Homo sapiens: one gene and its partner. The protein of the gene in region 1 interacts with the protein of each later gene in a pairwise test. Each region holds a gene or a part of one and is shown on either strand. Other genes may lie near its edges. The genes, in order: HEYL and SP8.

Region 1 (3,660 bases):
TTTACCAGGAGCCCAAAAAAGGGCACTGCCTTTTCTGCTTTGCTTCATGGACTGGCTCATATGTGAAGGCACGTTCTCCAGCCATCAGAGGCCCCCTCCTCCTCCAACCCATCTCTCCTTCTCACTGTTATCCCAGCTTATCCACCCAGCTCTCCTGGAGCTGTTCTGGTCTCAGAGGCTTGGTTCCATTTCTCACCTGAACAGATGAGTCCTGGGAGAGACCCTCAGAGATCCGCCCAGACCCCTCTCCTGCCCTCTGCACACCAGCAGCAGGCATGAACCTTGGGTCTGGGAAAAAGCTTTAACCTGCAGGGCACCAGGACCCAAGGCAGGCTGTTCCTTGGGGCGGTCAGACCCCAGTCAGGAGCAATGACTGACTGGCTGCAGCCTTCCCACGCCAAGAGGCTGGAACATAGTGTCTGCCTCGCTTCCTGGAGATAGTAACTGAGCAGGGGCTACAAAGAGGTCTCCTGGGAACCCTGTCTGCCCCTTCCCACCTGTCCTTGGGCCACACCATCACACTGAACCACAGGACAGACCCTTTCTCCACCACAGCCAAGGCCTGGAGACTGGGGGCCCAGCAGAGCCTGCTCCCACCCTCCTCCCAGCAGCAGACACCCACCCTCTCACTGACTAACAGGTCCCTGCACACAGCTGGCCTGGTAAACCCAGCTGGGAGGTTTCTAGGCAGCAGCAAAACTCTGTGACAGGGTGTCCTCACACCAGGCCTTGGACAGCTCTCCCAGACAGGAGCCAGGGTTGAGCAATGGAGAGCCCAGCCCCCACGTCTTACAGTCGCCATCCTCCAGGCGTGTGGTCCCTCCCCATTGGGTGCACAGTGCAGAGGGGCCGTGGCCCCATGTGATGGTGCGCAGAGAGGAACCTCTTGGGATTCAGCACCAGACGTCTGTGCTGCCTGGTTTGCATCCGGCTCACAGAGCCCAGACTGCTGGAACAGCCAAGGACTGTCAGGCTGGACAAAAATAACTGCAAGGAGGGGCAAGAGAAAGGATGATTCGAGGCACCTTGGCCCTTCAAGGTCATGCAGTGGGTCGAGCGCCTGAGATCCTGTTCACCAGGACTCCACAGAGCTGGCTCTGCTCAGAAGCCATTTCATTCCCCGGCTCCACCCTAGGCCACTTTTTCTAACAGAGGAAACAAATGGTCCAGCAGTCGTTCCCAGCAGAACAGCGGAGCCTGGACTGACACCCAGTGGGACCAGTGTTGCCACACCAGTTGATAAAATGCAGAAACCCTTCTGTACTCGTTGGTAAATATCTACTCCCCCAAGTGACTCCAGGTGCCCCCCACCGCCTGGCACTTCCCCCAGGACTCCTACGATCTGGTTACTGCCTGGCCGATCCAAGGCTGTGGAGTCCCAGAGCCAGCAGTTCACTGGTGCTCATTCCACACTGGTTAGATACTTCAGTTGTCACCCCTGGGAAGATTCTCCCACCTCCTCCCTTTGATGGAACCACCCTCCCCAGAGGCTGCATTGAGGAGACTCCACAGACTGAAAAGTGAGTTTGCAGAAACCTTGGGGAAAAGGGCCCTTTCAAAGAAGTGGATAAGAGGGAGGAGATCATTGAGTGACCCAGAAAGCTCTTTTGAAAAGACAGACTCCTCAAGGAGAGATAAAGAGGAAAGCACCTCTTTCATTTTTTAGTGTGAGCTAATTCCATCAGACTGCTGTCCTCCTGGACCCATCTGAGATGTGCAGTAGCAAGGAGAGGGGGGATCATTTTAGAGAGTGGGTCATTGGCAGGGAGTGCTCCGGAGGGAGGCAGAGGGGAGACTGTGGTAGAAGGAAGACAGAACTCACACATGCTCCCAGGATTGGGGACAGGGACAGAGGAGGTAACAGAAGGCAAAGGCCAGTTTCCCCGTTATCATGAAGGGGCCCACTCAGGACAGGAACAAGGACAACTCCTCCTCCTCCTCCTCCTCTCCTGCTGCTCCTGGGATACCAGGTCAGTGATGTAGTCTTGCAGTTTGGCAACTTCCTAGCCTGAGAATCCCTAGTGGGGCTGTGGGAAACACATTTCCACGTTGCAAGCATGCAACTCCAAAGAATCTGTGATGCCACTGAAATGAGATGGGAATGATCCAGCTCTTTCAGCATCTTGGTTGAACTTGCTTTCATTGTCCCTGGGATATTGTGGAAGGAAAGGTGACTGTGTGATCTGATTCTGTGGTCAAGGACTTGCATCTTGTGTTTCTATCCCCAAGCCTTCCTGGTGTCTCCAACTCCTACCCCATTGCATGGGTTGTTGCGGACATCCAATAAAGATTTTTTTAGTGCTTCTGGAAACTTCCAGTAGATTCTACTTCTAAACTATCTCTGGAGTCCATCCACTTCTGTCTGCACCCACAGCCATCCTGGCCAGGCCACATCACCTCCCCCAGATCACTGCCCTGGCCTCAGAAAGGTCTTCCCTCTTGCTTTGTCAATCAGTTCTCAGTAGCAGCAGAGAGAAATTGAAAGCTGCAGGTCATATCGTATCATCTTTAGTTTGAAAACCTCACTCTCTTACCCTATTGTTCTAAAGGTCTTCTTTTGGTCCCAACCTCATTTCCAGCCTCATTTCTTGCCAGTCCCAGACTTGCTCCCTGAGCTTCTGCCACCTGCCCTTCCTTCATTTCCTCGACATTCCAGCCTTGTTCCCACCTCCAGCACTTTGCATATGCTGTTCCCTTTGCCAAGAATGCTCTTCCCCTACCCTGTGCATGGCTGAGTTCTGCAGACCCTCAGGCCTTGGCTTCAACGTTGCCTCGTCCAAGAGGCCTTCCTCGACTACTTTACTTGTGGAGTTCCTCTATCACAAGGCCTCTGTTCTTTCCCTTCATGGAGAATTTGCCACTGCATATCCATTTGTGTAATTTACTTGTTGGTTGACTGTGCCTCCCACTCGAGTGTAAGCTCATGAGGCCAGGTGCCATGCCTGGTTCAGTCTCCACTCTGTACCCAGCATTGAGCACAGGGCCTGGTCCATAGTTGGCGTTCAATAAATACTTGTTGAAGAAGTGAACTGAGAAGGTGAGATATCTTCTGGACTCATGCCGTGGATGGTCCAGGCCCCTTTAGGTGTGAACCCCCTGCTGGCCAACTTTGCGGGGAGGCTGCAGAGCAGAGGGAGAGCCAGGGCCAAGGGACTGGAAGTTCTGGCAAGTGGCCAGGAGGCCCTGGCCAAAGGCAAGTGCGAGTGTCCACTCCGAGTGCACACTGACAGCTGGGAGCAGGCAGGCTGTCCTGCCAGCAGGCATTGCTCTCCACCCTTGGCTTGGCTCTGTGATGGATTTGGCTCGCAACAAATCCAACGAACACAGAGGTCTGCTCTGTGCCAGCCAGGCACAGTGGAGCCAGAGCTGGGAAGGACACAGTTGCTTTGAGTGGGGGGCACACCCTCCATCAGGATGATAGTTTGGTGAGATGAGAGTAGGGAGGTTTGTTAGGAAGGCTGAAGGGAGCAGAGTTGGGGTATGTGGCCCTGCCCGGGGTGTCAAGCGGGTAGGGGGCTCTGGGAGGAAGCTTTCCAGGAGGAGAAGGAAGGGAACCATTCTATGTGCAAAGACCTGGAGACCTCATCAAGGAGAGCTGTAGACGTTGGCTCTGAGTTGAGCACGGGCCCTCAGTGACAGGGTGAGAGGTGGGCTAGCCTG
Region 2 (4,492 bases), on another chromosome or scaffold:
TAAACCCCACCGAATTTGAACTAAGTGTATCTATTAACATGCACACACACTCATAGACAGATCTCTGGCCCAATCGCCATTAGACACTGACGCCTGGATAAATGTCCAAGATTTGTCAAAAGCTCCTCTCTATTCTTAGATAAATAGAACCCATATATTTCGATCAAAGTCCTGATTCTTTTCTCAGAAAGAGGCAGTGAGGTTTTCTGTGAAAATTTCTAAATTCCGTAAAACGCTCTTCAATTTCTTACCCAAAGAAAAAACGACCCTCGCTTACTCTCTTCTCTATCTAATCCTTTTGTATTGAAATTTACTCAACACCACGGGACACACACACCTCCTCCCCTAGAGTGAGACGTGCACTTCTAAAGCAGAATTCCACCTCAGGGAAAAAAAAAAAAAAAAAAAAAAAAAAAGCCACGGCATCAAAGAAACAACTCATGGGCGCGCAGGCGCGCATCCACGTCCCAACGCATCCCTAAAAATAACCCTTAGCCTCTCAACCTTTCTACTATTTCGTTGGAGAGCCGGGAAAGAAAAGGTGGGTTTAAAGATCTTCTTCAAAAATGTAGTGACGCTGTTTACCAAGTTAAGAAAAAAAAATCACTCAAGATTTTAGGTACAAGGAGCCAAAGGAAGTTGGCGACAGGGGCAGCGTTTGTGAATATTTATTCACTCAGCCTCCATCAACTTAGTCGGTTTCTCTCTTCAGCTCGACAGTCTCTCTCTTACAAACACACACTTTATTGCATTGTTCCCATTCCCCACTACCAGCTTTGGTGCGCGCACACAACACAAGCGCCCACACACACCCTTCCCTCTTCTCTGTCGCACAAATACACATGTTCACAGCCCTCCTTCTCCCCCAACACCAAACACACTCACCCCCCACCCAGTTGAGTCCCTCTTCCCTCCCTAGGTTTGTCAGTTACACTACCGTACACTCACACCCTTCCCAACACTTAACTGCTCTGTCCCTCTACCCCGCTTTGTCGCACACGCAGTTATCTTATCACACAACCCTCCCTTTTCTGCACTCTCTCCACTCCCCGCCTTTACCACACTGTCACTGTTACGGTGTCACACCCCCATCCCCCCTCCCTCCAGTCTCCGCACTGTCCTCTCCTACGCCTGGTCACACTCGCACACAGTTACATTGTTACACACACACTCATACACGCGAGCGCGCGCTTTGCGCTTTGTAACACACGCAGCCGCCCCCGCCCCCTCCGCTCCCACTCCCCCTTCCACCACGGCGGCAGGCGGCGGCGCCGATGACCTCACGGCGCGCGCGCCGCGCGGCCCGGCGAGGCCGCAGATTGGCTGGCCGCGCCTCCGCGGCACTTCAAAGCCGGAGAGGGAGCTACAATTGTGGTGGAATGGGCGGAACTGATCATTGTATTGCACACCTCTAAAAAAAACACTGCCTCTGATTTATCAATATAAAAAAGATCCTCTGAGAGGAGGAGGGCACTTTTGTGTGATGGCAACTTCACTTCTAGGGGTGAGTCTCAGGATTTTCTCTTGCTGGTTTAATTAGTTTCCTTTTATTGCCGATTGGAGGGGGTTAAAGTCGCCCCGGCCAGGCCACGGGCTATCAGTCTCTCTATTGAGAGCTTTTTTTTTTTTTCTTTAAATACAAGTGAGTTTGGAGAAAAGAAAAAGGGGGAGAAGGGGGCAGAGTCACTTTTTTTCAGCGCAGGAAAAGGTTCGAAGGGCATTTAGACAAGCCACCGCGCAGCGCCTCGCTGCTCCCTGCCCGGGAGACCTGCGTCCAGCCCATTTTACAGGCACCGATTTCGGGGGTAAAGAGAGCAAGTTTTTCCTTCTGGGCAAAGTGCAGATTCTTCCCCTAACCCTTAAAAAAAAATTCTGCAGCCCGCCTTGTCTCGCAGGTACGTTGAACTCGTCTCGTTTTTACTACTGTAGATATGCTTTTAAAAAAAGAAAGAAAGAAAAGCAGGAAGAAAGAGTGAGCCCTACAGTTTGATTTCTTTTGGCCTGGGAGAAACAACCCAGGATGGGTTTCTGGGGACCCGAACAGGTTTTTCAAAGCTCTCCGGATTACAGGGAAGCGCTCTTAAAAGCAATCCAATGGTTTTCCCCCAGGCTTCTCGGCAAAGAAAACTTCCTTCCTCTCCAATCTGGACTTTTTGCTTGTTTGTTACGAAGTGTCTGGGGCTTTGTGTGCAAGAGAGTGTTGTTTTAGGTGAGAATACTTGTCAAACTCTTCTTTAGCGTGGTGCTTGCTCCCGAATCAGACGCCGGCAGCCAAACTTGTCCCCTCCTGTAGAGTAGGAAGCGGCCGGGCGCCGGGGCTGTTGGGGGTGCCAGGTGAGTTGGTGGCGGCGCGCCGCAGCGAGAGATGGGGTGCAGTGGGGCGCTTTGGAGGCTACCGAAGGACTGATGCACATTTCTTCCTTTCCTCCCCCACCGGCCCTTTGCCCACCTCCCCTCCCCCACTCCTTCTCCTCTCCTCCTCGCAGGAAGAACCGAGGTTGGGATCGACTCCTCTGGCCATGCTTGCCGCTACCTGTAATAAGATAGGCAGCCCCAGCCCGTCTCCCTCCTCCCTCTCGGACAGCTCTTCTTCCTTCGGCAAAGGCTTCCACCCCTGGAAACGCTCCTCGTCCTCTTCTTCCGCCAGCTGCAACGTAGTGGGTTCCAGTCTCTCAAGCTTCGGCGTGTCCGGGGCCTCCAGGAACGGCGGCTCGTCCTCGGCGGCTGCGGCGGCCGCGGCAGCAGCCGCGGCTGCCGCGGCCCTGGTGTCCGACTCGTTCAGCTGCGGCGGCTCGCCTGGCTCCAGCGCCTTCTCCCTCACCTCCAGCAGCGCCGCAGCCGCCGCCGCCGCCGCCGCAGCCGCCGCCTCCAGCTCGCCCTTCGCCAACGACTACTCTGTTTTCCAGGCCCCCGGAGTTTCCGGGGGCAGCGGCGGCGGCGGCGGGGGCGGCGGCGGCGGCTCCTCCGCGCACTCGCAGGACGGCTCCCACCAGCCGGTGTTCATCTCCAAGGTGCACACCTCTGTGGACGGGCTGCAGGGCATCTACCCGCGGGTGGGCATGGCGCACCCGTACGAGTCGTGGTTTAAGCCCTCGCACCCGGGCCTGGGTGCTGCGGGCGAGGTGGGCTCGGCCGGCGCCTCCAGCTGGTGGGACGTGGGGGCCGGCTGGATCGACGTGCAGAACCCGAACAGCGCGGCTGCGCTGCCCGGCTCGCTGCACCCTGCCGCCGGGGGGCTCCAAACCTCGCTGCACTCGCCGCTCGGAGGCTACAACTCGGATTACTCGGGCCTGAGTCACTCGGCCTTCAGCAGCGGCGCCTCCTCGCACCTGCTCAGCCCCGCCGGGCAGCACCTCATGGACGGCTTCAAGCCAGTGCTACCCGGCTCCTACCCGGACTCGGCCCCGTCGCCGCTGGCCGGCGCGGGGGGCTCCATGTTGAGCGCTGGGCCTTCGGCGCCGCTGGGGGGCTCCCCGCGCTCCTCAGCTCGCCGCTACTCCGGCCGCGCCACCTGCGACTGCCCCAACTGCCAGGAGGCAGAGCGGCTGGGCCCTGCCGGGGCGAGCTTGCGGCGCAAGGGCCTGCACAGCTGCCACATCCCGGGCTGCGGCAAGGTGTACGGCAAGACTTCGCACCTCAAGGCGCACCTGCGCTGGCACACGGGCGAGCGGCCCTTCGTGTGCAACTGGCTTTTCTGCGGCAAGCGCTTCACGCGCTCCGACGAGCTGCAGCGGCACCTGCGGACCCACACCGGCGAGAAGCGCTTCGCCTGTCCAGTTTGCAACAAGCGCTTCATGCGCAGCGACCACCTCAGCAAGCACGTGAAGACGCACAGTGGCGGCGGCGGCGGCGGCGGCTCGGCGGGCTCGGGCAGCGGCGGCAAGAAGGGCAGCGACACCGACAGCGAGCACAGCGCCGCGGGCAGCCCGCCCTGCCACTCCCCAGAGCTGCTGCAGCCCCCCGAGCCCGGGCACCGCAACGGCCTAGAGTGACGCCCACCCTGCGCCCGCCCCTCTCCCCGACCTCCTCCCACCAAGTCCTCTTGGGCCCTGTCTGTCCGGACTTCAACTCCAGCCTTTCCCTATTGCATCCGACTCGCTCTCTGTCTCTTTCTGTTTCTGCCCCTCTTCCTTCTTCCTTCTGTGACTTAACTTTGTAAAGGGGATATGGACAAGTAAGTAACACGCATCGCTGTCCCGGGCCCTGGCTTTCCCTTTCCACGGGTAACGCTGCCTGAACCCGTTGCAGCCGGAACCCGCGCCTCGTCGGGCCTTTATTTCTCGTTCTCTCTTCCTTGTCCTCCCCTCCTCCACCCCCCAGGTTGTGAAGGGCGTAACTTTTAGAGGGAACGGCCACTGGAGGTAGAGCTGGACTAATCCAGTGCCTGGTAGACAGCGGGCCTCGCGCGGGCAGGAGCGGCTCGGCTGACAAGCCTGAGCGGAGCGGTGGAGAGGGAGAGGCTGGAGGCCTGGGCAGAACAGCGCCGCCCGGG

What was found.
Region 2: the proteins of HEYL (region 1) and SP8 interact in a two-hybrid assay, tested with the Homo sapiens proteins (one large-scale study listed by BioGRID and IntAct).

Annotation. Positions count from the first base shown.
Region 1 is NC_000001.11:39,622,804-39,626,463, reverse strand, and holds the end of HEYL (hairy/enhancer-of-split related with YRPW motif-like protein), read left to right. Parts: 3' UTR 1-3,029; downstream 3,030-3,660. UniProt on the Homo sapiens protein: Downstream effector of Notch signaling which may be required for cardiovascular development. Transcriptional repressor which binds preferentially to the canonical E box sequence 5'-CACGTG-3'.
Region 2 is NC_000007.14:20,783,790-20,788,281, reverse strand, and holds the start of SP8 (transcription factor Sp8), read left to right. Parts: upstream 1-1,395; 5' UTR 1,396-1,483; coding exon 1,484-1,504; intron 1,505-2,238; exon of another isoform or gene 2,239-2,334; intron 2,335-2,486; coding exon 2,487-3,992; 3' UTR 3,993-4,492. UniProt on the Homo sapiens protein: Transcription factor which plays a key role in limb development. Positively regulates FGF8 expression in the apical ectodermal ridge (AER) and contributes to limb outgrowth in embryos.